Linked DNA regions of Homo sapiens: regions 2, 3, 4 and 5 are each linked to region 1. Evidence: fine-mapped expression QTL. A gene starts in region 1. Each other region holds a variant in brackets. All regions are shown on one strand. Distances are from middle to middle.

Region 1 (5,103 bases):
AATTGTATGTCAATAAAATAACTAAATTAAAAATGAAATTTCAAGTATAAATCCACTAAAAATTCAGAATCTGCCATACTTTTGATTGATTCGTTTTGCTTACTCTTGAGGGCCTATCAATGTTTACTGACTAAATGCAAAGAGGGAGAAATAAAGGAGAGGTGAAGGCTGGGAATTCTGGGGATGGAGAGCACTTTTTTTTTTTTTTTCTTAGAGTCGTGCTCTGTCGCCCAGGCCAAAGTGCAGTGGCATGATCTCGGCTCACTGCAACCTCAGCTTCCCGGGTTCAAGGATTCTCCTGCCTCAGCCTCCCGAGTAGCTGGGATTACAGGTGCACGTCACCACGCCCAGCGAATTTTTTTGTATTTTTTAGTAGACATGGGGTTTCACCATGTTGGCCAGGCCGGTGTTGAACTCCTGGCCTCAAGTGATCCACCCATCTCGGCCTCACAAAGTGCTGGGATTATAGGTGTGAGCCAGTGCACCCGGTCGAGGGCACTATTTATTTATTTATTTTTGAGACAGGGTCACACTCTGTAGCCTGGACTAGAATGCAGTGGCTCAATCTCTGCTCACTGCCGCCTCGACCTCCAGGGCTCAGGCGATCCTCCTACCTTAGCCTCCAGAGTAGCTGGGACTACAGGCGCGCGCCATCGCGCCCAGCTGATTTTTTTTTTTTTTTTTTTTTTTTTTTGGTGAAAACAGAATTTCACTGTATTGCCCAGAACTCCTGGGGTCAACTGATCTACCTGTCTCGGCCTCCCAAAGTGTGAGGATTATAGGCCTGAGCCACTGCGCCTGGCCGACGAGCACTTTTAAAATGCAGGAGTCTTCCTGCCTCTGATATCTCATCCCTTATCACCATGCAAACAATTCTCCTTTTCATAGAAGAGTAGACATTTGGGGCGGGGTGGTGGTGGTGGGGGATTTTAGAAAATATCTACTGCATCCAAATGCCCTACTCTACAGACGAAAAAGCAAGGCCCAGGAGGAGGAAAGAGTTTGCTTACTGCCACCCAGTGAGCTGGCAAAGGCGCTGAGATTCAAAATGAGCTTTCCTGCCTTCACATATCTTCCGGCTGCCCTTTGCCTATTCCCTAAACAGTCAGGAGCCATCAAGTTCAGGAATTTGCAGGTGTGCTTCGCTGTGAACTGTGGAAAAGCAGCGTCTTCTCCCCAGAGGCAAGCATGTCGCCTTGTGAAGTTTGATGGCTCTTCACTTGCACACTCACAAAAAAGACTGAGCGTGTGTAACGCCCTGCTGGATGTGTGCGGTGCTAGAGAGCTTGGGGGTGAGGGGAGGACTCTCTCCCTTAAGAAAATCAGTTGACTGCAGAGCTAACATTGTTTTTTGAGTAATACCTGGTTTTTATAAAGTCGTCCCTTCAGTTCCCAAGCTCCTCTTCTGTTTGTTCAAGCCACCTTCAATTTGAAAAAGACTGAAGTCACAGCTTCTCAATCCCTACTAATTTCTCATGGACCTACTGGATTGCTCCAAATCGAGTATTTGGGACTGAACTAGGAAGCCAGTTCAATCCTGAGCCCCCGAGGCAGGCGTTGGGTCTTCTGTGGAGTCCCCAGAGACCTGCAACCTTCTGAACACGCATCCTCCCCTTTCCGCCGAGGACTCTGTCCTGCAGCCGAGCCAGGGCGAATGCACGGAGGTCACAAGGGAGGTGCCCTTGGAGGCGGGAGGTTTCTGGCCGCCGGGGCGACCGTGCTGACGAGGCACCTGCAGGAAACAGAGCTCTGCACGCTCCGGTCCCCCTCACCCGGGGAGGGAGAGGAGGTACAGAGGCGCTGGGGGAGGACGTCGAGCAGGCCAGCCTCGTTGCCAGAACCCCCGCCCCAGCCGGAGATGGGAGCACCGCACCGTCTCACGGGGGCTGGATTTCTTCTCCCCTTGCGGGTGTGTGTGCGAGGATGGACGTGGTAAATACGGGTTGGCAGAAGGAGCGAACCGCGGTGGAGGAAGTTCTTCTGCTTAGTTCTCGCCGCGGCGAGGCCCGCGGGCCAGGCGCGGCGACGAAGGTGCACGAAGGTGCCCCGCGGGCCTGGTGGAGTTGCAGCGGCGCGCAGGCGCACTGAGGGCCGCCCGCGGCCGGCTCCGCGGTACAAAGAGCGCCCCCGCGGGGAGCCGGGCGTCCTCTGGGCGGAGGGAGCAGCCGGGGCTTCGCCGGCCCGCGCCGTTCTTCTCACGCGCCGCTCCGGGGCGCAGCCACAGCTGTCGCCCACCGCGGGTGAGAGGCTTGCTGGTCCGCCCCGGCTTCCCCGCCCCGGCGGCGGCCGTGCGGTTCGGGCTTTAATTCTGGCGCTTGCCAGCCGGGGCCGACTCCGCCCCCTGCGCCCCGCCCTTCCCCGAGCTCCGGGTCCGCGGCGGAGCGAGCGAGCGGCCGGCAGGTTGGGAGGAGCGGCCGAAGGTGAGTGACGCGGCGGGGCCGTGCCGCGCCCCGTGCCGCGGCGAGGTTGTCCCGGAGCGCGAGGCCCCTACCCCTGCCTCGGGCTGGCCCCGCGCGGAGCCGACTTGGCGCGCGCCGGGGTTGCGCGGCGGCCGTGGCGGTGGCGGAGGGCAGCCCCCGCGGGCTCCCGCTCGTGCGGGTGAACCCGGCGGCCTCGGGGCGGTCCTGGGGGGGGGTCCGAGAGGTGGCGTCGGCCCCGCGGCCGTCGGAGTTTGGCGCGCTCTGCAGCGGCGGCGCTCGGCCGGTCTGGAGGAGGGAGAGGCGCGCCGGGCACGGAGCAGCGAGAAAGTTCGGGCCGGGCCGGCCGGCGGGAGGGTGCGGGCGCCTGGCTACCCCGGCCCGGCGCTCTGTCCCTCGGATGCCTCTGGGCCCTTCCCTAGCCCGGGGCGGAACGGGGGACCCTCTCTGAAGCGGCTCTCCGTGGAGTTGGATGTTGCCCTTCGCGGGAGGGAGTGGCGGTCAAGACCCCTTTATCCTCGGCCCCAGAGGGGCAGGTGGCCTCGGGTCGCCCTCCGCCAACTCCGAGGTGGCTTCGGCCGGGGCTGGAGGGCGGGGAGGCGGGGGAGGGGCGTGGGCGCTGCGGCCTCTGGGGCGGCCCAACCCGGCGCGGGCAGCGTGGGTTTCCGAGGTCCCGCGGTTCCAGGTCGAGGGAAGGTGTAGGGGCCCTGAAGCGGGCTGGTCCCCGAATGTTGCGTTTTCTGTGCCGCTTTGGGCAACACGCAGTGGCGCTCGCGGCAGCCACGGCTCCTTGACCGTTCATCTCCTTCACCCGGGTCCCGTGGAACTTTCAGAGGCAACTGTTCTTGGTGGCTCTTGCGGGTCAGCACGAGCCGTGCTGCACGAGCGTGACCTAGTGAAGGCCTTGGGCGAGTTGGCGTTAACAATTTATGGCGTCCGCCAGCGCTCGCTTTCCGCACGTGGCCTCTGCGGAGGGTCAGCCCATCTTATTAAATAGTGGATTCTATTAGACCCTGATACCCGAGGCTAATAAGGAAGCTTAATCATCCAGATGTGTAATCGTGCAGTTCCTTTCCTCACCGTCATTGCCCCCCACCTCTGGAGCTGAATGGAAATGAGGGTCTGTTTGCTTATATTGAATTCCTGAGTTTATTCAAGTTCATTTTTAGGTGGCGTTAACAGCTAAGTAGCTGTTCATCTGCCAGTTTCTCCTTTCATCCAACTTTCTCTACTAAAATGTTGAGCACGTTTTATTTAAAAAAAATTGAAGTGTAATAAACATATAAATTTACTCTTCTAAGGTCAAAATTCAGTGGTTTTTAATATATCCGTAAAGTTATGAAATCATCACTACCATCTGATTCCATTTCGTTGCCCCCAAAAAGAACCCCTATACCGATTAGCAGTCATTCTTCCATCTCCCAGCCCTTCTCCCTCATTTTAAGGCAGCTACTTAGGAAGTTTTTCTAAGATAGAGACTGAGTGAGAAAACTGAGAGGTGATTAACTTTGATCCTTTTTCTGTTACTAGGTTTGGGGAAAGGTGCTGCTGAAGCAATGGAAGAAAAATTAAGTATTGGCTGTCCTATGGGGAGGTTAAAATGAATAAGGATGGAAGAGAAGCTGCCAGTAGAGGAATAATTGCCTCCTGTAGAGACCCACAAGTTGGGAATACATTTTATCCCCTTAGGGCACAGGGATGCTTTCTGGGCTCTAGACTTGCCTAGTCCATAAATCACTCTAGTCGAGGTTCTGCCTCAGCGAAAGTGAGTTCTGGGTGTGTGTGTGTGTGTGTGTGCGTGTGCGTGCGCGCTCGGCAGGGAATGTTAGAAGGAAAAAAGACTAGGCTTAAAAGTAATTTTTTAAAATATCCAAACTGGCCCCAAAGAAAGAAACCAAAAAACCACAGGCAAATGGCCACTGGAATTGATACATTCAAGACTAGTTTCATTTCATGAGTATCAGTTCACAAATAGTTCTGAGTTAATGTGTGCATACATTAACTTTTTATCCCAAGTGGGAGGAGGAGGATGGAAAAGGATCTAGTTGGGGGCAGTGCAAGGAACTGGGAAGAGGAATGGGATAATGGCCGAAAGGGGCAGTGCTTGTGGGAGCTGAGGACTGTTGAGATGGAATAACTATAGGGTGAGCAGATTCTGAAAGAGCAGAGTGGGTCTGTGAAAAGTTGGACACTTCACTCGGGCTTTTTGTTGGATAATGTGTGCATGTTTTAAAAATCATTTTTAGTAAGGAGAGTTGAAGCTATCCAAATTATGCAACATCCACTACACTTCTCACTCACCCTTCAATAAGAAAAGTCAACTTGTTTTCAAGTGTTTCGGGAAGTTTTAGGCCTGTTGCATGGGTGACAGCTTATGCCATCTTTTTTTTTTTTTTTTGGTAATTTAGAACATTGACATAGCGAGACTCCGTCTCTACAAAAAAAATAAAAAATAACCGGATATGGTGGCACATGCACCTGTAGTCCCAGCTACTTGGGAGGCTGAGGCAGGAGGATTGCTTTAGCCCAGGAGTTTGAGGCTGCAGTGAACTATGATCATGCCACTGCACTCCAGCCTAGATGACCGAGCAATATCCTCTCTCAAAACAAGATGAGCTGTACCATAGGTATACATATCCCACACCCCCAGCCCTGCCGACGGAGTTTTGCTCTTGTCAGCCAGGCT
Region 2 (5,103 bases), 210 kb after region 1:
ATCTCTGAGTACTGATGGACATAAAGATGGAAAAAGATGGAAATAGTAGACATTTTAGACTACAAAAGTGGGGAAAGAGGGGAGTGAGGGTTGAAAAATTACCTATTGAGTACGGTGTGCACTATTTGGGTGATGTGTACACTAGAAGCTCAAAGCTCATCATTACACAATATATCCTTGTAACAAGCCTGCACATGTACTCCCTGAATCTAACATACAGTTTTAAAAAATAATACAATCATTATCTCATTACATTGTTTTTAAGCCTGTGAGTTAAATATTTGCATCTCCATTTTTACTCAGGGAGAAACTGAAGTTAAGAGAGGTTTATTAACTTGCTTACCCAAGCCGGGCGCAGTGGCTCACGCCTGTAATCCCAGCACTTTGGGAGGCCAGGTTGGGTGGATCACCTAAGGTCAGGAGTTCGAGACCAGCCTGGCCAACATGGTGAAACCCTGTCTCTACTAAAAGTGTAAAAATTAGCCAGGCGTGGTGGTGCACCCCTGTAATCCCAGCAACTCAGGAGGCTGAGGTAGGAGAATTGCTTGATCCCAGGAGACGGAGGCTGCAGTGAACCGAGATCATGCCATTGCAGCTCCAGCCTGGGTGACAGAATGACCTGTCTCAAAAAAAAAAAAAACAAAAAAAAACAAAAAAAACTTGCTTACCCAGCTGTTGTAGATCCAGGTTCAAAACATAGGTGTGTCAACTCTTAAAATCATACCAGCTTGCTGTACTGCAACAAACACAAATATTAGTTTTTACCATTAGGTGTATTGCATGTCATTATAATATTCTTTTCTCCCTCTTCTAGGAAAAGCAGGTGATATTCTCAGTGGAGACCAGGACAAGGAACAGAAAGACCCTTACTTTGTGGAGACCCCCTATGGTTATCAACTAGACTTAGATTTCCTCAAATATGTGGATGACATACAGAAGGGAAATACCATCAAAAGACTGAACATCCAGAAGAGGCGGAAGCCGTCCGTGCCATGCCCAGAACCCAGGACCACATCTGGTCAGCAAGGTATATGGACTTCCACTGAATCCCTCTCATCCTCCAACAGTGATGACAACAAGCAGTGCCCCAACTTCCTCATAGCCAGAAGTCAAGTTACATCAACTCCAATCTCAAAGCCACCTCCCCCTCTGGAGACCTCACTCCCTTTTCTTACCATCCCAGAAAATCGACAGCTGCCACCTCCCTCACCACAACTCCCAAAGCATAACCTTCATGTCACCAAGACACTGATGGAGACCCGGAGAAGACTGGAACAGGAGAGAGCCACCATGCAGATGACACCGGGTGAGTTCAGAAGGCCCAGGCTGGCCAGTTTTGGAGGCATGGGCACCACAAGCTCCCTCCCTTCTTTTGTGGGTTCTGGAAACCACAATCCTGCCAAGCACCAGCTTCAGAATGGATACCAAGGTAATGGGGATTATGGTAGCTATGCCCCAGCTGCTCCCACCACTTCCTCCATGGGGAGCTCCATCCGCCACAGCCCCCTGAGCTCAGGGATCTCCACCCCAGTGACCAACGTGAGCCCCATGCACCTGCAGCACATCCGCGAGCAGATGGCCATTGCTCTGAAACGCCTGAAGGAGCTGGAGGAGCAGGTGCGAACCATCCCTGTGCTCCAGGTAAAGATCTCTGTCTTGCAAGAAGAGAAAAGGCAGTTGGTCTCACAGCTGAAAAACCAAAGGGCTGCATCCCAGATCAATGTCTGTGGTGTGAGGAAGCGGTCCTATAGTGCGGGGAACGCCTCCCAGCTGGAACAGCTCTCCCGGGCCCGAAGAAGTGGCGGGGAATTATACATTGACTATGAGGAGGAAGAAATGGAGACCGTAGAACAGAGCACGCAGAGGATAAAGGAGTTCCGGCAACTTACAGCAGACATGCAAGCCCTGGAGCAGAAGATCCAGGACAGCAGCTGTGAGGCCTCCTCAGAGCTCAGGGAGAATGGAGAGTGCCGGTCTGTGGCTGTGGGTGCCGAGGAGAACATGAACGACATCGTCGTGTACCACAGAGGCTCCAGGTCCTGTAAGGATGCAGCTGTAGGGACACTTGTTGAGATGAGAAATTGTGGGGTCAGCGTGACAGAGGCCATGCTTGGAGTGATGACTGAAGCTGACAAAGAAATTGAGCT[G/C]CAACAGCAGACCATAGAATCCTTGAAGGAAAAGATCTATCGCCTAGAAGTACAGCTTAGAGAAACCACCCATGACCGGGAGATGACTAAACTGAAACAAGAGCTGCAGGCTGCTGGATCGAGGAAAAAGGTTGACAAAGCCACGATGGCCCAGCCGCTTGTTTTCAGTAAGGTGGTGGAGGCAGTGGTGCAGACCAGAGACCAAATGGTCGGCAGTCACATGGACCTGGTGGACACGTGTGTTGGGACCTCCGTGGAAACAAACAGTGTAGGCATCTCCTGCCAGCCTGAATGTAAGAATAAAGTCGTAGGGCCTGAGCTGCCTATGAATTGGTGGATTGTTAAGGAGAGGGTGGAAATGCATGACCGATGTGCTGGGAGGTCTGTGGAAATGTGTGACAAGAGTGTGAGTGTGGAAGTCAGCGTCTGCGAAACAGGCAGCAACACAGAGGAGTCTGTGAACGACCTCACACTCCTCAAGACAAACTTGAATCTCAAAGAAGTGCGGTCTATCGGTTGTGGAGATTGTTCTGTTGACGTGACCGTCTGCTCTCCAAAGGAGTGCGCCTCCCGGGGCGTGAACACTGAGGCTGTTAGCCAGGTGGAAGCTGCCGTCATGGCAGTGCCTCGTACTGCAGACCAGGACACTAGCACAGATTTGGAACAGGTGCACCAGTTCACCAACACCGAGACGGCCACCCTCATAGAGTCCTGCACCAACACTTGTCTAAGCACTTTGGACAAGCAGACCAGCACCCAGACTGTGGAGACGCGGACAGTAGCTGTAGGAGAAGGCCGTGTCAAGGACATCAACTCCTCCACCAAGACGCGGTCCATTGGTGTTGGAACGTTGCTTTCTGGCCATTCTGGGTTTGACAGGCCATCAGCTGTGAAGACCAAAGAGTCAGGTGTGGGGCAGATAAATATTAACGACAACTATCTGGTTGGTCTCAAAATGAGGACTATAGCTTGTGGGCCACCACAGTTGACTGTGGGGCTGACAGCCAGCAGAAGGAGCGTGGGGGTTGGGGATGACCCTGTAGGGGAATCTCTGGAGAACCCCCAGCCTCAAGCTCCACTTGGAATGATGACTGGCCTGGATCACTACATTGAGCGTATCCAGAAGCTGCTGGCAGAACAGCAGACACTGCTGGCTGAGAACTACAGTGAACTGGCAGAAGCTTTCGGGGAACCTCACTCACAGATGGGCTCCCTCAACTCTCAGCTCATCAGCACCCTGTCGTCTATCAACTCTGTCATGAAATCTGCAAGCACTGAAGAGCTGAGGAACCCTGACTTCCAGAAAACCAGTCTGGGTAAAATCACAGGTAGGTGGTACCCTGAGGACCTGGGAATGAGGAAGGATGGGGGAAAATGTCTTTCCAGAAGCTAAGGATTATTTTTTAACTGCTGGAACCATTTTTGGAGGAGAAATGGAGAAAGTTTTAGAGTGGTAATCTGTAGAATGAAAACTAAGAATCAAAATCCATAAGCACCTCTGCTGATGCTTATTATCTGGTAGCCTCACTGGCCTCTGGCTGAGGACTAACGCTGGAAGAAAAGTAAACTGGTGTTGGCTGGCCTAGAGGTTGTCTTCTGGGGCTGCTAGTTTGGTAAGATGCTTTATTCTTTGTCTTTCAGTTATTTACTTGCTCATTATTTATAGAACTGCCTTTAAAAAATCCTACCCTGTTTGTACCCACTATTACCAGTATATTAGCAATTGAAATACTGGCATAAAATGTTTTCAGTTAAAACGTTTATGAGAGGAGAGACTCCATTAATTCATTCTTTAATTCAGCAAATAATTATTGAATTTGAGCCAGGTGCAATGGTACACATCCGTAGTCCCAGCTACTCTAGAGGCTGAGGCGGGAGGATTGCTAGAGCCCAGAAATTTGAGACCAGCCTGGGCAACATAGTAAGACCTCCATTTCTAAAAAAATATGAAGTAAAAATCATTATTACTTGGATTCCTACTCTGTCTCAAGCTATAGGCTGTGAAGATAGTGTGAACAAAACAGAACAGAGCCCCTGTCCCTGCGGTGCTTACATTCTAGGTGGGGTGCAGGATATAGACAGTAGACCTATAACATGTCAGGAGGCGATAAATACTGTGAAGAAATTAACTCCGGTTATGGGAACAGCGAGTGGTAGTGGTCAGGGTGAGGGCTGTTTGAGATGAGGTGGTCAAACTTGGAGAGAAGGGAGTCTTTTCCCACTCATTTTTTTTTTTTTTTTTTGAGACAGAGTCGCTCTGTCACCCAGGCTGGAGGGTGGTGGTGCCATCTCGGCTCACTGCAACCTCTGCCTCTCAGGTACAAGCGATTCTTGTGTCTCAACCTCCTGAGTAGCTGGGACTACAGGTGCCCACCACTATGCCCAGCCACTTTTGTATTTTAGTAGAGATAGGGTTTCACCACATTGGTCAGGCTGATCTTGAACTCCTGACCTCAGGTGATCTACCCACCTCGGCCTCCCAAAGTGCTGGGATTACAGACATGAGCCACCACACCTGGCCCGATAGGCGCTTACATTTTTGTCTGTCTTATTCTTTCTCGTATTCATTGGGATTCCTGCTCACTCTTCCTTCTTGAAATTGAAGCTAATAATCAGAAAGCCACCCTGGATGATTTTATGGCTTACAGTAATTCCCTGTGAGCCTTACCAACCTGATTTTGCTTGTGACCATGTGCACTGCCTCTCACAGTGTATAACATCATCCTCAGCTTAGGACCACACTGCCTGGCTTCCGTTTCTGGCTCTCCAATTCTCATGAATCAGTGTGACCTGGGAAAGAGTGTGCATTAGATTAATTTTACATGAAAATGTGTGATACAGACTTAAGCCATCCACAGAAATTCCAGTCTTTCTATTAGTGTCTGATGGGGCAATGATTAAAATAGACTGAAATATATTATTTTTATATCTTCCTAGGTTTCCACTTTCAAACCTG
Region 3 (5,103 bases), 100 kb after region 1:
AATGAGATAAGGCAGGCTACTGAGTTGGCTTAAAAACTAAGAGGAAACTAGTGAAGTGTAGTTGCCCGTTCACATTTTTATTTTTTTAAGTATTTTATGCCCACGGAAAACTGTGGGACTGGGACTTGAATTCTAATTTTATGTTTTCTTGGGTTATTCTTTAAAACAGGGTCTTAGACTAGTAATTAATACAGTGTCACTCTCTTTCACCTTCCTCAATTCCTTTGCATGCTTGTTAGGTCATTCAGAGTGGCACTAAGGTAAACTTTGGCATATCAAAATCCACTTGAAAGCAGATGGTTAGCAAGGGGCAGTGACTTATGCCTGTAATCCCAGCATTTTGGGAGGCCAAGGCGGGTGGATCACTTGAGGTCAGAAGTTCAAGACCAGCCTGGCCAATATGGTGAGAACCCGTCTCTACTATAAATACAAAAATTAGCTGGTGTGGCGACGCACACCTGTAGTCCCAGCTATTTGGGACGGTGAGGCAGGAGAATCGCTTGAATCCGGGAAGCAGAGGTTGCAGTGAGCCAAGATCGTGCCATTGCACTCCAGCCTGGGCGTTACAGCAAGACTCCATCTCAAAAAAAAAAAAAAAAAAAAAAAGGAGATGGCTATGCTTGTTAAACACTGTTTCAGTTGAGTACCTCTCCTGTGGGCTTGTTGGTTCTTGTGCAGATTCCTGCTCCTGCCCAAGTCCAGGACTAGCTGCACATACCTGCACATGTGCCTCACCCAGTCCAGGACGGCTAGCCTTGTTCTCTTCACCCAGCCCAGCAGCAGAGTGCTAGGAAACTTTGCTGGCAGGGCTGTAAGAACCTCTGTAGTTTCTTCCCATTTCCTTGTTCTCCTAACTTACTATGCTGGGAGGAAATAATATGGTGTGGTAACGATTTTAGGCAAAGAAAAAAAGCGCCGAAATGGATGTGGTGGTAAAATTAGGCCAATCTTTTGGAAGCACCTTAGCAACCTCCTTTCATGTTCTTGGTACCTTTACCTGGTTGTATTGTAATGTTCATTTTTCCTTGTGAACATCTCTCTGTGTGTGTGTATGTGTATAATTTATCTAGTACCATGGAATCTTTGAAGGAAAGACTAAAAAACTTTCAGAATTATTATTATTATTATTATTATTTTTTTTTTTTTTGAGACGGAGTCTCGCTCTGTCGCCCAGGCCGGACTGCGGACTGCAGTGGCGCAATCTCGGCTCACTGCAAGCTCCGCTTCCCGGGTTCACGCCATTCTCCTGCCTCAGCCTCCCGAGTAGCTGGGACTACAGGCGCCCGCCACCGCGCCCGGCTAATTTTTTGTATTTTTAGTAGAGACGGGGTTTCACCTTGTTAGCCAGGATGGTCTCGATCTCCTGACCTCATGATCCACCCGCCTCGGCCTCCCAAAGTGCTGGGATTACAGGCGTGAAAACTTTCAGAATTATAACAATAAGTTTCATTTGTTGTATAGCACATTCTACGTGACCATAGACCAACTCTCCTTTATCAATATTTGTGTATTCTCTTAAAGAGCTAAAAGAAATCATTTTTTAAAAATTCTTTATATCTAATGTTGGCCAATGTTACCTATAAGAAAAGATCATTGTTTCAGAGCATGTGAGATGAAGATGATTGACTTTAGGGCATTTACATGTGGGAACTGTCAAGGTAGTTGAAGTTTACAAGAGTGGGCTCTCTCTCTAGTCACTTCGGGAGGAATGCCATCATCAGGACATCATCACGACTGACTGATTTGGTCAGTCTGTCTTTCATCAAGTCAGGGAGATAAACAGAATTGAAAAATTGTTCACAAAGGTTGTCAGTTATTAGGGTGTGGCTGACGAACCACACCTGAAGAGCTACCTAGATGAAGGCAACTCACAGAGTTACTTAACAACCTCCACCCCAGTTGATGGTCCAGAGTGTTTCCAAGGGAGGTGAACTAAGCCAATGTTGAGACTGAGTGGGATAAGGCCATGGTGACATGCATAATAGATGCATTCATACACATTGCTTCAATAGAGCATTTTCTTGGATGGAAGCATGGGAAATAACACATGGGCGTATACTCACGCTTGTTGTTAGCTTTCGGGGTCACTGCTGATATCCTTCCTTGTTCAGTTACCCTTTGGGACTTGAACTCCTGCAAGATCGTTGAAAATCTTCATGTTCTCAGAACTCAAAGGGAAGAAGACTTGACCCCTAACCCTTCAGAAAGCTGGCTGAAAAAAAAAAAGATTGTCCATAAATAGCAATTGGCTTTACCTAGTATTATTTACCACATTATTAAACTGCTAATTGCAGTGGTGTTTTTATAATGCCACTATATTATTTTAATTTAGAAAACATTTTATAAGTTTATTGTTTGTAAATTAAATAGATTTGCTTAACAGTTCTTTGGGAATTCCTTAAACTTTATTGCTAGCTACAAGTCCTTTTTAAATAGAATCAATAGGCTGGGCATCGTGGCTCACGCCTGTAATCCCAGCACTTTGGGAGGCCGAGGAGGGCGGATCACCTGAGGTCAGGAGTTCAAAACCAGCCTGGCCAACATGGTGAAACCCCATCTCTACTAAAAATACAAAAAATTAGCTGGGTGTGGTGGCGTGCACCCTTAGTCCCGGCTACTCAAAGGGCTGAGACAGGAGAATCATTTGAACCCCAGGAGGTGGAGGTTGCAATGAGCTGAGATCGCTCCACTGTACTCCAGCCTGGGTGACAAGAGTGAGACGCTGTCCCAAAAAATAAATAAATAAAATAAAATAATGAATAGACTCAATAGACATTGATCCTGCTAACATATTTTGCCTTTTAATCTATTGGTACTTCTTTTATTCCCTTTAAAGTTAATTCTAAATAAAGGAGAAGTATCTTAATTTGGTTAATATCATAGTTTGGAACTATGGCAAAATTATTTTTTCTCAGGCTACTTTCTAGTAAGTATTTTATATTTATTCACTAAAGAAAATTTTTAAAATTTCAAATTACGTAGAATTGTACCACTCTCACATAGAAATGTTTTTATCTTTCTTATACATATATTTATGTGGTTTGATTTTTATTTGGAATGCTTGTTTTACTTGAGGTGTCAGGACTTTCCACTCATTTATGAAGCCTTTACAATTATAATGATAAA[T/C]ACTGTTACATTAATGTACAATAATTTATAAAACTGACTTTCTCATGTTTAAAATTTAGATCGTGTCTAATTCTTTGCTACTTTAAGTATCATTGCAGTGAAATCTTCAGGCCATAATAAGTTACTTCCTTGCGATAAGTTCACAGGAATAACTAGATTAAAGGTATGAATACATTTTAATTTGGTTGAACACTTACGTTTATCAAAAACTCTTTACAAAAGTAACACAATTATCCTAATAAATTAGAATATTAGAAGTATATAAGATGAAAAAACATTCTCACTGAACTTCAGTCCTGCTCTCCAAAGTGAACCATGATGAGACCTTAAGCAAATGTTATATATAATGAGAAAAGATAGTCCTGAAGAATTGAGTGATATGGAAGTGATAATGGTGTACTATATGGGTGAAAAAATAAAGTACTGGTTTAGATACATGATTTAAGAAATAGAATCCTGACAGTTCCCTCTGTGGATAAGCCATAGAGGTGTCCAGTGTTGGTTTAATATAGCAGCTGGTTTGACCGAGTACCCTCTGCTGCGTCAGGTAATGTTAAATGATGTCCATGCCCCCTTGACTCTGATCAAGACATGGCTACAACCTGCAGTTTCCAGCTTTCCTGGGTTTAAGGGCCATTGAAGAATCCTTGTAGATAAGAGAAGAATTGTACATTCCAGGAACTGGAGGCATAGCTAGCCTTGGAAAGCTCGGAGGGTTAGTTGAGACAGCTTTAGACTTGCACATCTGTGACCTGAGTATCTTTGAGACTTGATTTCATCTTCTAGACCCAGAGGCAGAGATCATGTTTGTGGTTATTTTTCTGGGAACTGAGACTGGGCAAAGGGAAAGAGGCCAGTACGCAAGAGTGCTGTTTATAAATGGTTAACATCGTCCCCAGTCCCGTAGAAGAAGAATGAAATGGTATTCTCCTGTTTGGTGGTTTTATTTGATTGTTTTTGAATTCTTTGTCTCTGACAGAAGGCATCTTCTGTATCCTTTATGTTGTCACTCACTTTATTACTCTGGCATTATTATAATTAGGTTACCTTATCACTCCACCTGCCAGCCCTATCTCCATCCCCAAGACCTGAAGGGACGGTTGGCTTGACATGTGAGGAGGTTTTTTGGCCTTCAGAGATGTCGCTGTCAGCCCCCTGAGTTCCATTTGTTAGTATTGGGTCCAGCCCACAGCTTTCTACTAAAAACAACAGGCAAACTAAAGAATCTTTTAGTAAGTCACAGACAATTGTCACTGAACCAAGAGCCCAGCCCACGGGGCCAGTTCCTCACCGACTCTATGCCTTAATTTCCAATGTGTAAGCTTGGATGACTACACTTATCTCCAGGATTCAGTGTAGGACATAGAAAAAAGTACAGGACTCAAGTAATGATTGAACTTGGAATAAAAACCTTAAGGCCCATGTCCTCTGTCTCTCATGCTTTTCAGATGTGTCTTAGTGCCTGCTCCTTGCACAGAAGCTGAATCCAAACAAGCCACTGAGGAAGTTACATTTCACTTCACTTCTTAATAACATAGGTATGTCGATCCCATTAGATAGGAGTGTGTCTAAAATTCAGAACCTTTGACACTAATTATCTGACTGTCAAATGACAGTGTCATTCTATTTTGCAGGCATTTTTGATAGTTTATCTTCCCAGTAATATTTTTGTAATCTTCATCACCTTGACCATCTAACTCTTTTTTTTGGAGACAAAGTCTTTCTCTGTTGCCCAGGCTGGAGTGCAGCGGTGCAGTCTCAGCTCACTGCAACCTCCGCCTCCCGGGTTCAACCGATTTTCCTGCCTCAGCCTCCTGAGTAGCTGGGATTACAGGCGCATGCCACCACACCCGGCTAATTTTTTGTATGTTTAGTAGAGATGGGGTTTCACCGTGTTAGCCAGGATGGTCTCGATCTCCTGACCTTGTGATCCGCCAGTCTCGGCCTCCCAGGGTGCTGGGATTACAGGCGTGAGCC
Region 4 (5,103 bases), 240 kb after region 1:
TGGGAGACAAACCCTGTCTCAAAAAACACACTAGACAGAAGACAAGTTGTGTTGTTCTTTCCCTTGATACTCCTTTATATCCATTTAAATCCCTGAAATTTAATGGAAATCAAGCAGTTAAGTGAAGCTTTTTTCACCCATATGTAGTGTTTCCCCTCTTATTTCCAGAAGTTGGATCTGTGCAACCCACTGGGATTGCGTGCTTACACACAGATGTTACTTGTAGCCTTAAACCGAGGTGGTTTAGGGTTTTAGGATCACAGTGCCCTCTCTAAGAGGAAAGGTAAAAGATCTTTGGCAAATTGCAGAGTCTCTAAACACACACTACTGCTGCTTGCCTGGTCATTCATAATTAATTAGAAGAAAAAAAAACTTTCTATCCCCATCTTCTGCTTCCCCCTCCTGGTGGGCAGAATGGTTGAGTAAGATAATCCTCTTAACTGGGACCTCTGGAGGGTGGAGGCTTGCCTCATTCATCTTCACATCCTCAGGCCTTCACCCTTAGAGGTCCCAAAAAAGTTTCCCAGAAGACCGAACGAGTAGGGATATTTGGGGAACCTTGCCAATTATTGGAGGGTGTTTTGTTCTGTTACCTTTCGGTTGTCTGGAGGTTTGAGAAACCCAACATGGCTTGTTCTTTCCATCTTATCTTAAGGATGGCAGCACTGCGCTCTCAATCGCCCTGGAAGCAGGACACAAGGACATCGCTGTTCTTCTGTATGCCCATGTCAACTTTGCAAAAGCCCAGTCTCCGGTCAGTGTTGTGCATTTGGCATTTGTAAATAGGCTGAAATCCACCAGACTGGTGGACCCCCTTCCTCCAGGAATTGACGGGAGACAGATTTTATGTTGATTCAGAAAATGGAAGTTTTAGTCTGGAGCTTAAGAGTTCATCCTTTCCGCCTCCACCCCGCAAAAAGCAGGAGAACTAATGTTTTAGCAGAGGCTGGACCTTGCTTGTCCTTGCAAGACATATGCTCACAGCTTCCCATAGAGGTTTTGATTCTGTGCAGAATTATCCAGATAGCAGCCCCTGAGCCCATGGGGATATTTCGCCATGGTTCTGGCATTGTTCCTGAAGCAGATGGCAGGCAGCCTGTAGTCCACAGTTCACTCTGAGTGGGAAGGTGACTTCCCAGGACAGCCGGACATAGCACTGCTGAGCCCAGCTGGCCTTGGAGCTGTGGACACCTGTTCCCTGTTCTCAGCCAGAGCTCTCCTGGCTCGGGCTCACAGCTGCTTGTTGCCTGTGGTGGGCCAAGATCCTATGTCACAGGGTACACATCTGCCTGAGGTCACTTATTAACCCCCAGTTTTTTTCCTTTCCTGGTCTCTAGGGCACCCCTAGGCTTGGAAGGAAGACGTCTCCTGGCCCCACCCACCGAGGTTCATTTGATTGATTGTATGCAAATAGCCCTTTATTTACATGCCACTATTAAGCTGCTAATTGTTCCTGTTGGGGTGACAGATACTGAATGTATACGTATTGTGCCTGAGCTCACCAGCAAACAGAAGCATCAAGCCCAGGGGTAAAGGCTGAAGCTTTCACAGTGCAGAGACTGCTAGCCTGGGCACACACACCTCCTTTCTGGCCGTCTTCTGTGTAGGGCACACTTTAACCCAGTCTCTGTTGCTGTTGAGTCTCTGCTCCGTTTTGTACAGTCACAGGGAATTCTGATCTGAAGGGGCACCTTCTGTTCACTCCCACAAAGTGGTGTCTGGTTCTCACTGAGACGTTTTAAGATTTTTCCACAAATATTTATATGTACTAAATGTGGAACCATTAGAAAGTTCTTCCAAAATCTCATTCCAGCATAGTTTTGGATTTTTCTTTTGTCTTATTTTAAAATAAGGAAGTCGAGATGACTTTGATCATTGGTAACTTGGGCCTGGGCCAGACAAAGTATAAAACTTACAAAAGAATATTCTCATTTGGTCTTAACTAGGTAGATGTAATATATGACTTTTTATAAAAAGGGTATCTATATGAACTTGACACAGTATTTTCAGCTTTTGTATTCCATACTAAAGCCATGAAGAACTACACGTAACATCATCATTTGTATTAATTGCACAACTCCAATGCTAAAGGTTGGATTGTGTTAGAGGAATCGGCTCTGTATTTGCCTCTAGAGAAACACAGTGTTCTCTTTGTATTTATGGATTCCTTTTTACCGTGTCACATTTACTTTGGTCCTCTATGTATTTAAATGTTTGAAGTGCCTTAGACTCTTGCCATATTTTCAAAATAAAATTCCATTAAGCTCTTTTCCTTGTCCCTGTTTCATCTCTGATAGCTGTCCGCCCCGAGCCGATTGACTTACGGCAGTGGCAGCACACGCTGATGGATTGAGCTGAGCAGGGAGGGTGAGTGCGCCAGTTGGCTCCGACAGGGAGACAGCATCTTCCGAGGGCGCTTGTCCACTTGCACAGCTTGGCTCCTGACTCAGATTGCAAGTCGGGAGGCTGAAGTTTGAGGCCTCCTTAGACAAAGCGCTCTTCCGATGGGTAGCCGGAGATGCTTCTTCTCAGGTGCAGAAGCACTAGTCCTTGACTCTGAGTACAACTGCTGGGTGACTAGGTGATACGTGTAGTGACAAGAAAGGAGAGATGAAGCCGGACACTTTTTTTTTTTTTTTTTTTTTGAGAATGGAGTCTCACTCTGTTGCCCAGGCTGGAGTGCAGTAGCATGATCTTGGCTCACTGCAAGCTCCACTTCCTGGGTTCACGCCATTCTCCTGCCTCAACCTCCCAAGTAGCTGGGACTACAGGCGCCCGCCACCACGCCCGGCTAATTTTTTGTATTTTTAGTAGAGACAGGGTTTCATCGTGTTGGCCAGAATGGTCTCGATCTCCTGACCTCATGATCAGCCCACCTCGGCCTCCTAAAGTGCTGAGATTAAAAGCATGAGCCACTGCATCTGGCCTCAAATTCTTTTTAAATAGTAAAGTAAGTTGGGACCATCTCATTAAATGAAGCAGCATGGCAGCCAGAATTCAAACCAGGTGTTCTGGCACAATCGCTGGTGGTGAGTTTTGGCCAAGGCCATCTATGAGAGCCAAGTGCACTGGAGAAATATCAGAG[ACTT/A]CTTCTTTCCCTCCCTCCCTCCCCCGCTTTTAAAAATTAAACATTATTGAGCTCAGGAAAGAGGCCAGAGAATAGACTTTTCCCATAGGTGTTTCATTATGAGGTCTGTTTCAGAGTCAAGATTTGAACCTTTCAGAGGAAAACAATTTGGGGGGCTGTGAGAGCCATGCTGGCAGTGCAGGCAAACCTGGGCAGCAACAGACCAGCTCTCCCAGGACCACAAGGATGACTTTCCTCTGCATGAACTGTGAAAGTGAGGTCACAGCCACCTGGAGGCACATCCCTCTCGGGACATAACCTAAACCTACTAGCTGATACATGCTGAATTTCAGATCATGTAGCTCTTCAAGCCCAAGTTCCTACAGATCCAAAATGGCACAATAAAAGCAGGAGAGAGAGAGAGAGAGAGAGAGTGTGTGTGTGTGTAGAGAGAGAGAGAGAGGTAGAGCCATGCGTGGTCTGCCCCTTATGGGCATAACCTACCTTTTGAGCAAATAAGGTAGTACCTCTGGTGGTTCCCGGGCCTGGGAATTTTCTTTGTTCCATCTGAGAAAGGAAAGGCATGAATGTAAATGAATGAGCAAATGAATCCCCCTGTCTGCATGCTGCCCTTCTGATTTCTCATGCTAGATTTTGAAATAGAAAATGAGTGCTTGTTTTATCAGATACAAGATATGTATCTGACCTCTAAGTAATGAATGCTAGATGGTACCTTGTTTGCTCTAATCACACTAGGCATTTAGAATGCCTTTTATCTTGGGATCCTGGTATACTATATAAACAAGCCTGATTATGCCCATTGGTACAGCTGCAGTTTATTGAGGCACAAACTCCATAAAAGGGATTTGTGACAGGAGGCTTGGGCAAGGTTCCCAAGTAAGACCAGCATGGGGTTGGCAACTCCTGATCTTATTTTCCAGCTTAAGAGAAGTCTAGGTGGGTGTGGTGGCTCACACCCATTATCTTAGCACTTTGGGAGGCTCAGTCAGGCAGATCACTTGAGTCCAGGAGTTCGAGACAAGCCTGGGCAATATAGCAAGATCTCATCTCTACAAAAGAAAAATTAGCTGGGCGTGGTGGCATGTACTGTAGTGCCAGCTACTTAGGGGTTGAGATGGGAGAATCACCTTGGCCCAGGAAGTTGAGGCTACAGTAAGCCATGATTGTGCCACTGCACTCCAGCCTGGGTAATAGAGTGAGAACCTGTCTCGGAAAAAAAAAAAAAAAAAAAAAAGGAAGGTTTAAATCTTTAAGTGATGAAAAGACAGCTTCCCAGAAACCTTGCCTTGGAAGTTGAACCACGGACAGTTGGGAGCCACCCCAAGACAACAGGAGTGGAACAGTGGGACTTTTGAGAGTTTAACCTTAAGAAAGTAAAACTAAGCCAGGTGTGGTGGTTCACACCTGTAATCTCAGCTACTGGGACAAAGGCTGAGGTGGGAGGATTGCTTGAATCCAGGAGTTTGAGGCCAGCCTGGCCAATGTAGTGAGACCCCCATCTCTTTAAAAAACAAACAAACAAAGGAAAAAAAAACTGGCAACTTGTCGTGACACTATTACGACTAAACTGACAACTAAATGTCTCACCAAGGGGGAGGAAGGGTGCTTCTGGAGACGTTTACTAGGAACACTTCATCTAGCTCTGGTATCCAAAATAAATGAAGCTCTGAGCGCTTTCCTTGTAAGTTAATACTTGGGAGAACAACATTATCCCTGATTTTTGTACTACTGAAGTACTGCCGATATCTGACAATCCTTGCAGATGGAATCACATAAGAAAACTATTTCTCCTTCAAAGGAAATAATGACCAAACATAACCTTTCTTTAAATTCTGCTAGATCTTTTGTGGGGGAACTTGCTACAAGTAGAATTACATTTTTATGATTTTGTATAAGCCTTCCCTTCACGAGACACTTAAGAATTTCCAGAGGGAGCAGGTAGAAAATGCAAATTTCAGTCGGACACGGTGGCTCAGGCCCATAATCCCAGCACTTTGGGAGGCCGAGGCAGGCAG
Region 5 (5,103 bases), 31 kb before region 1:
CTCAGGACATTCTTATCCAAGTAGGTGCTAGCCACCTGGGTAGTCAAGACAGGGCCCTGCACAGTTAATGTGAATCTTGTCATAATGCCAGGGTTATTGTTTTGCAAGGAGCCGGTCATAGAACACTAGATTGCATTGTCACTGGGAAATAAGCTCATTCTATTAGCTTGTTTCTCAGCTAGCTTATGTAGAAATTTGCCACAGTTGTTACTGCTGGGCACCTGCCCTGGATCTGATCATCAATTATATCATCTCTTCCATCTGATGGACTGCACCTCACCCCTTGCTTTTTCAGAGCTGGCGAAGCTGGGCCAAGGAAAGCGATAGTGCCAGCTGAGTGGAATGTGCAGGAAGGGACCGAGGAGGGGCACTATGTACTGGAGAAAAGAGATGGGGTCTCCAGGACAGGGGTAAGGACACTAGACTGAGGGCACAAAGGAAGGAAACCACAAGGAAGTAGAGTAGGGAAGTGGGGAGCATGCTGAGGAGAGAGGTCAAGAGATGGTGACCGCTCTCTGCATGCCCCAAGGAGATGGTGATGACACTCCCAAGTCCATGTGGGACTCCCTCCTTATGCGGGCCTCAGTCTGTCATCTTCCTTGGAGCAGGACCAAAGTAAATAAGATAAAGTCACAATTTCTCATCCTTCTTCACTCAACTTTTCTTTGAGGTGAGTTGGCATTTTTGTAAAAGAATGCATTCTCTGCCAGATGCGGTGGCTCACCCCTGCAATCCCAGGGTTCTGGGAGGCCAAAGTGGGAGGCTTGATTGAGGCCAGGGGTTCGAAACCTAGGCAACATAGCAAGACCTCCATCTCTGTAAAAGAAATTAGCCAGGCATGGTGGTGCATACTTGTAGTCCTAGCTACTTCGGAGGCTGAGGCGAGAGAATCGTTTGCACTTAGGCATTGGAGATTACAGTGAGTTAAGCGTTCTCCTGTACTGCCATGGTAGGTGGGTGTTGCTAGCCACATGAGGATATGTGAGCCGGTCACCAGGGACTGCGGCTGACTCCCCGAGCACAAGGACAGTAAGAATAAACCTCCGATTATTCCCCTGCCCCCAACCCCAACTTCAATTAAAGAGATATACCCTTATGTGACTGACAAAAAAGAGCCCTGCTCTCCCAGAGTCACATCCCCATACGCCAAAACACTCTTACATATAATTATTGGTGCTTCATAAATGGCTGATAAAAAAACTTTTCTATCAGGGAATACACCCTACCTTATTCACAGCCTCTTATAGAGAGCTGGCCTGCCCACAGTCTCTGTAAGGGGCAGTTGTCTCTTCTGAGTGACCAGTTTCCCTGACCTCCCCTCAAGCCATGACTGACCAAGGAAGTCAATGTCACCACTGAGAAGCAAGGCGTAGCCTCAGACTCTGAGTTTCTAACTCTTTCCACTTTCCTAAGATGGGGTTATGCCTCATTTCTGAGAGATTTCCAACCCTCTGCCATATATTCCTCTTTTTGTGAGGTCACTTGGGGAGGTGTCTGCTTCTTAGCACCAGAAGAGCTCTCTCAGGACCCAGTTGCTGACCCAGTTGCTGCAAATGCTGAAAGTAGGAAATGGAGGTCAAGTGTAGGCCATAAAGATTTTCCCACTCCTCCTCTTGAATCAGGCATGGCCTTGTGAATTACTTTGGCCCATAGAATGCGGCAAAGTGATACTGTACAAGTTCTAGCCTTGGTCTTAAGCCTGCCAGCTTTTGCTTTCACTCCCTTGGAGCCCTGAGCTAGTATAGAAAGAGATCCAGCTGCAAGGACTGGTTACACAATTTGCAGGGATTAGTGTAAAAGGAAATGCAGGTTTCCTTGTTTTAAAATTATTCCGAATTTTAAGGCGGTGACAACAGAGCCCTATACCAAGCAGAGGCTTGATCCGAGCTGGTGCAGGCATGACAGCCAGGCTTCCTGATACATGAGTGATGCTAT[C/G]TTGGATTTCTGGCCCCAATTCAGCCTCCTAATGGTCAGCATGAGAGCATGAACTACCCTAGGTGAGACCAGTAGAAGAACCCAGCTCAGATTACAAAACTATGAGCAAACAAACGGTTGTTATTCAAGTAAAGCTCACTAAAGCTCTTCATGACAAACGGGTATAGTCATGGGGGCCGCTAAGGCCTGGGTTGAGATTTTATATAGCAATAGGTAACTGAAGCATGAAGAATAAGAGTTTGCAGTGAGTGGTCACCCACCATATTCCAGGCCCTGTGTTGGTGCATTGCATGTGCCAGCTCACCTGATCCTCACAACACCTTTCATAATTCCTTTCTACAGGAGAGAATACAGCAGTTCCAAGGACAAGGGATTCGTACCACTGCTCCTCACTCAGTAAATAGCAGAGACAGAATTTGAACGTGAGTCTGACTGATTCCAAAACCCATGTAATATCCCTGCATTGAAACAGAGGAAAATCCAAGGAAAGTGCACACAGCTTGGAGACTATTGGATAGGGGTCTGATTCAGTCTTTCCTAAATTTCCTCATAAATTTGCAGTTGAAGTATCAGGCAGAGAAATGATAACCAGGTGAAAGACCCCTAATGGGACATCATGACATCACAGCTCTGTGATCATCAACCATAATCCCTAGAGGGTCACCTAGAGTTATCCTACAATGAGGCTTACTTGGGTTTTCTGATAGGTATAATACTGAGAAAATTTGCTATGGTTAGCTATGGGTATTCACCACTTATTTTAGTGTATATCATCCCCCAACAAACCACAGGCACCTGTGATCATCTGGGTATGTGTTCAGGAACTATCTTGCACCCAGAAAGAACAAGAATTTTTTTTTTTTTTTTGAGACAGAGTCTCTCTCTGTCACCAGGGTGGAATGCAGTGGCACAATCTCAGCTCACTGCAACCTCTGCCTCCATGGTTCAAGTGATTCTCCTGCCTCAGCCTCCTGAGTAGCTGGGACTGCAGGCATGTGCCACCACACCTAGCTAATTTTTGTATTTTTAGTAGAGACAGGGTTTCACCATGTTGGCCAGGATGGTCTCGATCTCTTGACCTTGTGATCTGCCCACCTCGGCCTCCCAAAGTTCTGGGATTATAGGTGTGAGCCAGTGTGCCAGCCAAGAATTAATTTCAACATTAGACTCAGCCAGAGTTAATGAAGAAGCTTTCCCCACATGATGGCTCCTCACAAGAAATACTATCTATTTATAATATTCATTGGCTTTACTTGTCTTTACCAAGCCTTCCTGAGTGTCATCAGTGGGTGAGTGAGTGTATGGATAGGTACCTGCCTATCTGTCTGCCCATGGTGATGAACACATCACTGTAGGTCAGCAATGACATTGAGTCTAAATGCTGTTGGCCATAAGGAAAATAGTGACATTCCCTGGCTCAGAGGAAATGCTGGTAGGAAAGCCATATGGACTAGTATTTATAAGTACAAGCTCAGGGGTCAAAGATGCTGAAGTTCAATGCCTTGTCCTGTCTCTTACTAATTAGTGATATTGGACATATTGATTAATTGCATAAGTATGTTTCTCACTTATCTATAAAATGAGATGTATGAGGGCTAAATGAAATGATGCATGTGAAAAACTGAACAAGGTGCCAGGCCTAGGACAAGGGCTCAATAAATGTCAGCGATTATTTTATTTGATGAACAAAAGAAGGCAAATGTTCTTTCTTTGATGCCCCCTATCTTTTCCCTGTGTCGTTTCTCTAAAAAAGTATATGTGTGTAATTTCTATGCCTTCCCTCCACTCTCCCATTATCTACCACTTCATCATCCTCTCACTACCCATGGCCACTTTCCCTCATTATCTTTTCTATATTTCTTCCCTCCTCCCCTGAAATGGGGTTGAGCAGGGGGAGATCAGAGGATGAGAAAAGGCAGGGAGACATTGGTGGCAGGGTGACAATGGAGCACCACAAGCTGTCTAGGCCATCTAGACTTTCCCTGAGGACACTTCAGTATCTCTGAGAATACCATTTTCTCAGGACTCCTCACACTGGGAGAAACCTTAGCAATCATCTGATGGTGTACTTGTTACAGTAGATAGGCAGACATGTGCAGTGCAGGAGAGGGCCCCCCACCCTGACCAGGAATGTCAGGTGACCATCAGGTGATGGTCACATGGTTGTTACACCGTCTCTCTCAAATAATAACTGGTTGCAGCCAGCACCAGGGAAAGGCAGTCTCCAAATAGATAGGAAAAACCTGAAAGTGACAATCAGCAGCTTCACAATAAGATCTCAGGAATTGGGCAGGTGGGCTCAAGCATGTGCACTAAGAGGCAAAGTGGCGGAGTTTAATTGGTAAATGACCTTCCTGTAGGAATGCTACGCTGGTAAGGGAAGAAAGCCTCAAGAAAGCATCTGTACCATTCCAGCAAATACACTGTGCATGCTCCCCTCCCAAATGCTAGCAGGCCACTGCACATATGGACAGCCCACCCCAAGGGAAGAATTGGGAGAAGTAACCCAAGACCCCGAAAGTATGCCAACCTGTAAGACCGCAAGTCAAAGGTCAAACTGTGCACTTGATCTCACAAGGTGCCCACTCGGCCCTCTTCCAAATATACTCTACTTCCTTTCATTCCTGCTCTGAAGCTTTTTAATAAATTTTCACTCCTGCTTGAGGACTAAGCTCTGATCTTTTCTTATCTTCCAAATTCCTATCTAGGGGGTCTGGGGAGTTATGCCCTACAAACCAAAAATTCTCATCAGATGGGTTTTATTTAACCCTATATATTGTGACTTTTTAGTCTGACTCTGGCATAATATTACATGACAAAATCAAAATATTTTATCCCATAACATGTCTCTTTGGCATATTTTGAAATGGCCCTGCAAAGCCATCCTTTGTAGGGGAAAATTTGCATCTGTAAAGAATCTCTGTTAACATAGCTAGATATTTTTCTTCCAGGCGCTCCCATCTGAAGAGATTAAGAGTCTAGCACCTTTTTAAAATTATTTATTTATTTATTTATTTTTGAAACAGAGTCTCACTCTGTTGCCCAGGCTGGAGTGTAGCGTCGCCATCTCAGCTCACTGCAACCTCTGCCTCCTGGGTTCAAGCCATTCTCCTACCTCAGCCTCCCGAGTAGCTGGGATTACAGGTGCCTGCCACCACACCCGGCTAA

What was found. PIP is the estimated chance that this variant, and not a neighbour inherited with it, causes the effect.
Region 2: its variant is fine-mapped to the expression of KANK1 in fibroblasts (GTEx, PIP 0.96).
Region 3: its variant is fine-mapped to the expression of KANK1 in whole blood (TOPMed, PIP 0.94).
Region 4: its variant is fine-mapped to the expression of KANK1 in thyroid (GTEx, PIP 0.97).
Region 5: its variant is fine-mapped to the expression of KANK1 in whole blood (TOPMed, PIP 0.97).

What each region holds. Positions count from the first base shown.
Region 1 is chr9:502,335-507,437 of GRCh38, forward strand. KANK1 (KN motif and ankyrin repeat domains 1) reads left to right here and starts at 2,361. Exons shown (of 12, transcript NM_015158.5): 1 at 2,361-2,420. It overlaps LOC105375947 (translation initiation factor IF-2-like), which reads right to left and starts at 3,219. Exons shown (of 4, transcript XM_047424276.1): 1 at 2,926-3,219; 2 at 2,605-2,835; 3 at 1,363-2,487. The coding sequence starts at 3,219. The coding sequence ends at 1,666. RefSeq lists a silencer at 1,997-2,486.
Region 2 is chr9:709,990-715,092 of GRCh38, forward strand. It overlaps KANK1 (KN motif and ankyrin repeat domains 1), which reads left to right. Exons shown (of 12, transcript NM_015158.5): 3 at 815-3,475. It overlaps LOC107987042 (phosphatidylinositol 4,5-bisphosphate 5-phosphatase A-like), which reads right to left and starts at 653. Exons shown (of 1, transcript XM_017015393.3): 1 at 1-653. The variant G/C (reference allele first, on the strand shown) is at 2,148.
Region 3 is chr9:606,902-612,004 of GRCh38, forward strand. The region is part of intron 1 of KANK1 (KN motif and ankyrin repeat domains 1); the gene reads left to right. Among named protein-coding and RNA genes, the nearest start is that of KANK1-AS1, 76 kb to the right of the region's middle. The variant T/C (reference allele first, on the strand shown) is at 3,127.
Region 4 is chr9:743,836-748,938 of GRCh38, forward strand. KANK1 (KN motif and ankyrin repeat domains 1) reads left to right here. Exons shown (of 12, transcript NM_015158.5): 11 at 656-754; 12 at 1,338-2,268. The coding sequence ends at 1,400. LOC124902109 (a long non-coding RNA gene) reads right to left here. Exons shown (of 4, transcript XR_007061394.1): 4 at 3,414-3,634. Among named protein-coding and RNA genes, the nearest start is that of KANK1-AS1, 61 kb to the left of the region's middle. The variant ACTT/A (reference allele first, on the strand shown) is at 3,086.
Region 5 is chr9:470,917-476,019 of GRCh38, forward strand. It overlaps a transcript of KANK1 not described here. Among named protein-coding and RNA genes, the nearest start is that of DOCK8-AS2, 3.3 kb to the left of the region's middle. The variant C/G (reference allele first, on the strand shown) is at 1,936.